2 separate regions of the Homo sapiens genome follow, and region 2 is linked to region 1. Evidence: fine-mapped expression QTL. A gene starts in region 1. The other region holds a variant in brackets. All regions are shown on one strand. Distances are from middle to middle.

Region 1 (2,903 bases):
TCCGAAAAAGCCAGAAGAGCCTTAGTTTACATCCTGGCTCAAAGATATGGGGAACTCTGGGCAAATTACCTAACTTCTCCAAGACTCTGTTTCTCCAACTGTAAAGCACAGGAAATGGTTGCTTTCAAGGGTACTCTCAGAACTAAGTGCCTAAAGCCTCTACTACAGCACTAGGCTGGTGGCGCAAACAGAAGCTCCAGTCCTTGGGGACATATAACTTCTGTTGTCTCAGAGGCTCCAGGAAGGAGGAAAGCTGAGCAGCTTTGTTATCTCCACAGCCTCAAGACACAGAAGACGCTCAATAAATAAGGAATGGGTAGTGCAAGGAGAAAAGGCAAGGGTGGGGAAGTACCCAAGGACCCTCCTGATGGCTTAGGCCTGCACTGTCCATTAAGGTAGCTGCTAGCCACATGTACTACTGAGCACAAGCAATGAGGCTAGTGTTAACTGAGATGTGCTGGTAAGTGTAAAATACAATATTTATACGATAGTTTTGGGGGGGCTTTTTTGACGGAGTCTCGCTCTGTCACCCAGGCTGGAGTGCAGTGGCACGATCTCGGCTCCCTGAAACCTACACCTCCTGGATTCAACCGATTCTCCAGCCTCAGCCTCCAGAGTAACTGGGATTACAGGCGCGCACCACCACGCCCAGCTAATTTCTGAATTTTTAAATAGAAACAGGGTTTCACCATGTTGCCCAGGCTGGTCTCGAACTCCTGACCTCAGGTGATCCGCCCGCTTCGGCCTCCCAAAGTGCTGGGATTACAGGCGTGAGCCACCGTGCCGGTCCTCCAAGACAGTTTTAAAAAGGAAAATACTCATGACCAGCTTGGGGAAAGGTGGCAAAAACCTCGTTTCTACAAAAACAAAAATAAAAATAAAAATAAAAATTTAAGTAAAATATCTCAAGAACTTTTTATATTGTGTTGAAATAGTAATGTTTTGGACATATTGGGTTAAATTGTATTTAAAAATCAATTTCATCTGTTTCATTTTACCTTTAGTGTGGTTACTAGAAAATTTATAATTACATTTGCGGCTCACATGAGACTAGCATTTTATTTCCATTGGACAGCGCTGGCTGAGAACAAAACCTAACCCTCTGTGCCGCCCTCGCGGCCGGGATGCGGTGCGCCCCGGGCCTCCCCATTCGGAAAACGAGGAGCCTGGGCGCAACGGGGCCGGCAGCCGCCTTAGCTACCCGGCTGGCGCTGGGGACCCCGTCCCCCGAACTGCACACCGCGTGGCGGGGGAAGGGGTCCCAGCCCTCGCGGAGCACCTTTGGCCCAGGGCGGGAGCTCCGAGCGCCGGCTTCCCGCGCCCCGCACGGCCCGGCCCAGCCTGGAAGAAGGCCTGAGGAAGGCCCGACCGCGCCGCCCGCGCCCTTAGGCCCGGCCCGAATGCTGGAAAGCCCGCCGGCCCGCCCTCGGCTCGGTGAGCCTCGGCTCACCTCAGCTGCCGGTCGTACTTCTGCTCCTTGAGCAGCTTTCCCAGCTGCGCCATGGCCGCGCCTGCCGCGCGGAAAACAGCCGAGCCCCTGCGGAGCGCCGCCACCAGCTCCACAAGCGCGCAGGCGCACTGAGCGCCCCTTCGCCGCTACCGTCTCCTGCGCGCTGCCTGCAGGGGGCGCCGCACTGCACTGCGCACGCGTCGCCGGTACGCCGGGGCCTAAGCGGCCCTGGTACCCGAGCGGGTCTGGGGCTCTTGGTCCCCATCGGCCAGAAAGGCAGACCCGCTAGCCTGCCAATTTGCCCTCTGTCCATGCAGTAATTGGGGGCGACTGGGGCATTGGAATCAGGCATACTTGTATTTCGACCACTTAACTGGCTGTGAGATCTACTCTTTACCTCTCAAATCCTCAGTGTGCTCACCTGTGCAGTGGGGATAAATGGGTCCCAAGTGTCTTTTGACCTTAAATGAGATTTTGAATACAGGAGGCCAGACTCCCCCCAAATCTTGCATGAATAATAACTTTCATTTTGATGATCATTATTTTTCACCCATTTCTTCCTCTCATGAAAAGCCCACAAGCCTATTTTGAATCACAAAGCTAGGGGCTCCCTGCTGCAGATGCAGACAAGTCCAGGGCTCTGTTCTTGGAGAGTTTAGTCTCATGAAGGAAGAGGGACAGCAAACAAGCACTTACCAGACAATGTGGCCTTCCTCTAGATAGAGGGAAGCAGGGTGCTCAGGGGTGCACAGAAGAACCTCCCCAGTCCCCCTCTCCAAGAATGTTTCATGTGGTTTGGAGATGGAGGAGTGTTTTGTTTTGTTTTGTTTTGTTTTGTTTGAGACAGGGTCTCTCTCTATTGCTCAGACTGGAGTTCGGTGGTGTGATCTCAATTCACTGCAGCTTCAACCTCCCAGGCAGCAATCCTCTCACCTCAGCCTCCCAAGTAGCTGGGACTACAGGCATGCACCACCACACCTGGCTAATTTTTGTACATTTTTTGTAGAGATGGGGTTTCGTCATGGCCCAGGCTGGTCTCAAACTCCTGGGCTCAAGCGATCTGCCCGCCTTGGCCTCCCAATGTGCTGAGATTATAGGCATGATCCACTGTGCCCAGCTGGAAGGGTGTTTTAAGCATAAGGAACAGCAGGTGCCATCTCTAGGAAGCAAAGAAGGCATAGCAAGCTGTAGGTGCTAGAGTAAGTTTGGTCAGGTGAAGGATAGGGAGTGGTTGAGAAGGTTTGAGAGACAGTTGGGACAGGCTGGGTTCTGAAGACTGTGAACATAGATCCAAGGAGGAATTTAAAGTCCTCCACTTCCTGAAAAGACCCTCCTTTCAGGAAGAGAACGGCTGTCCTGTGGGGATGGGAGGCCAAGGAAGGAGGTTACCCCATGAGAACAATTGGGAGGGGGGTGGTGGTGCTGAAGACAAGGTGACCATCTGTGAGGGAGA
Region 2 (2,903 bases), 74 kb after region 1:
TATGCCTCCCTCTCCCCACTCTGGCCCCCCCACCCAAGTGCTCACGTGCACACACACTCACATTTTGCAGCCGTCAGCCTGCTTCCTGACCACTGGACCCTGTCATCTCCACCACAGCCCAGGAGAGGGATGAGGAAATTGAGGCTCAGAGATGGGAATTGACTTGCCCAAGATCACGAGGCTGGGAAGTAGGCAGGACAGCCACCAGATGGGGCCACTGTGGCTCACAGTTCAGTGCTCTCCCGTGGAAGAAGCCACATCACTGAGGAAGCCAATACATTGTTCTCTGGAGTGCCCAAAGCTCAGAGATGGGGCCAACGGTGGGGTGTTCTGGGTTGGACTGAGGGTGAGTAGGAGCTGAGGGTGACCTGTGGTCTTAGTCTCCGCATGGGAAGAAATCTCACTAGAACCCCCCAGGCCAATTCTGAGGGGACCTTGCCTGGCTGTGGGAGAGGCAGCTGGAGCGGGTCCTCATCGGCACTGAGCCCAGCCCAGCCCCCTCATCCTATCCCTGTGACCACCTCACGCCCTGCCCCGCCCAGGCCCCCAGAGGCTGGCAGGCCCTGCCAAGTTTCCAGGGAATGTGTCAGATAAAGGGCTGGTGCTCATGACTCTCTCCCACGTAGCAGCTATCTCTGACCCTACTGCCACTACCACTGCCACCGCCACTGGGAGGTGGATAAGAATAGCAACAGCCCCAGTGAGTGGGCACCCACAGGGACACAAACCATGTCTTTAGGTGTCCAGCCTCAGCCTCAGACTGAGGATGAGTCTCCAGGTTCCCCTTTCCATCAGTTCCAGCCCCACCTAGCTCCCCCATCATCCTGGGCCCAAAATCCTACCACATCTTAGGGTAAAACTCCAAGCCTCATCCCTTGTGGCTGCTGCCTCAGCAGGGGGAATCTGGAGGGGATGCCATCGCCACATTGATCCTGAGCTGGGGCCTGAGCCCTGCCCTTCACTGGGGAGCTGTATGACATGGAGCTGGACATTGTCCCTCTCAGGGCCCACAAGCAGGGCAAGGTGGCACAGCAGCCCCTGGAGAATGAGATAGCCAGCCGAGGCCTCTCCAGGGGCTGGGTACCCCGTTGTCCTGGTGACCACAGTCTAGTCTGGCTTCTGAGTGCCCCTGTGAATTCTGGCTTTCTGGTCAGTGGGGATGTGAAGACAGTGAGGGTCCTCATGTCTCACAGATAGGGGTCACTGGGATACGACCACTGGGTGGTGTTGGGGGG[G/T]CCCTGCATGAGTCCTGTGACACTCCTGTGAGGGTGTGAGGGTAGCTGCGTGACTACAAGGTAAGAGGCTGTTGTCATGGAACCCATGGTGAGCGTAGTTGTGACACCGGAATCGGGAGATCCAGGGAGCCTCATCTCCAACTGTGACACATGGGGGTGATGGAGGGAGCCGAGTCCCAGTCCCCACATCAGTGACTCCTGCAGCTCTCACAGCCTGACTCATTGCATGGCCCCGGACCTGGTACCCCCAGCCTCCTCGCCCCCGGCTCTGGCGCCTTTCTCTCCTCGCGTCCTCCCTGTTCTCAGGCGACTCTTCCTCTTTTGTACCCCCCCCATGTCACCCACCTACCAAAGGGGTCCCAGGGAGGAGGTCAGGGATGCTAGGGAAGAACGAGGAAGGGTGGGCCGAGGCAAGCTCCTCGCACACTCACACATTCCGATGCGTGCATCACACAGACCAGACTGCAGCATATACTTATACACCCACAGACACACGTGTGCACACACGCCTGGTAGAGTGACTGGGCCACTAAGAAGCCTCCCAAGCTCAGTCTTCCAACATCAGCCCTGTCTGGTAGGCCCCCACCACCCCTTAAGTCAGGGTCCCATGCCGCTGAGGCCCTCACATTAGAAACGCATCCTCCCGCCGCAGCAGTGTGTCTGGAGGTGACACCCTAGGAAGAACTTCTGCCCCGAGGCCCCAGCTAGAGTCCTGGGTGGGTGTAGGTAGATGTGGGTGGGGTGGGGTCTCTGAGGGCCCGAGACTGTTGCTTTCTTTGTGGGTGAGGGCCAGACTGACCTCTGGGCCTCCGGCTTCAAGAGCCCTAATCGCTGGGGCTGGAAAAAGTTTAAAAATATCCTCATGTTTACATTCTTTCCAAGCTGCCTCCTGATCCTCCGTGCTGGGTCCCTTTGATCTGGCCCAGTGCCTCTGGAAGGGGCCTGGGAGAAGGGGAGCATGAGGCCTCTGCTGGGGCCCACCCCTCAACCCCCTCCAGCTCCAGCCCAGAACCCTGTGAGACCCTGGACATCACAGACCCTAAGAGCACCTGGGCACTGGAAGGGAGCTGGGGCTGGAAGGGGTGTCTTGCACTCTTGCTTTGGGGCTGGAGCTGGGGCCCCTCTCCAAACTCCCTCCCAAAAGCCTGGGCCTCTTGGGACCTCTAGGGAGTGTGTGTAAGTGCGGGGATGTAGGTCCCTCAACAATCCATGCACTGGGGAAAGTCACATTTACTGAGCCCTGCAGTGCCTGGCACTGTGCTAAATGCATTGTGCAGGGATTATCTCATGTAGTTTTCCTAACGACAAAAACTTGTATCACCAAGTAAGCCAAGGCTCTGAGAGGTGAAGCAGTTTTCCTGGGAACACATCGCATGGATAAGCACAACACATGCTCTTCTACCCATAGAGCTATTGGTTGGCCCCCACCTTGCTCTAGCAGGGGCGAGGCCCTGCCTACAGAATGAAGCCTGCCTCACTAGCATTAATCTCTACAGGCATTCACTGGCCCACTGCCAAGCCTAGAGACCAATCAGCTTTGTGTCTCTCTTCCTCTGCGACCCAGGATAAGCCACACCCCCTCTCTGATCCTCACCTTTCTCTCTTTCTGTTTATGTAGAGACAGAGTTTCACTTTGTTGCCTAGGCTGGCCTTGAACTCCTGGCTTCA

The links. PIP is the estimated chance that this variant, and not a neighbour inherited with it, causes the effect.
Region 2: its variant is the best candidate, but not a certain one, in a credible set for the expression of NAE1 in fibroblasts (GTEx, PIP 0.52).

The regions. Positions count from the first base shown.
Region 1 is chr16:66,829,397-66,832,299 of GRCh38, forward strand. NAE1 (NEDD8 activating enzyme E1 subunit 1) reads right to left here and starts at 1,580. Exons shown (of 20, transcript NM_003905.4): 1 at 1,451-1,580. The coding sequence starts at 1,503. RefSeq lists silencers at 1,055-1,264, 1,275-1,334, 1,316-1,540 and an enhancer at 1,304-1,804.
Region 2 is chr16:66,903,230-66,906,132 of GRCh38, forward strand. It overlaps LOC107984821 (a long non-coding RNA gene), which reads right to left and starts at 2,031. Exons shown (of 3, transcript XR_001752244.2): 1 at 1,862-2,031. RefSeq lists an enhancer at 1-2,428. The variant G/T (reference allele first, on the strand shown) is at 1,236.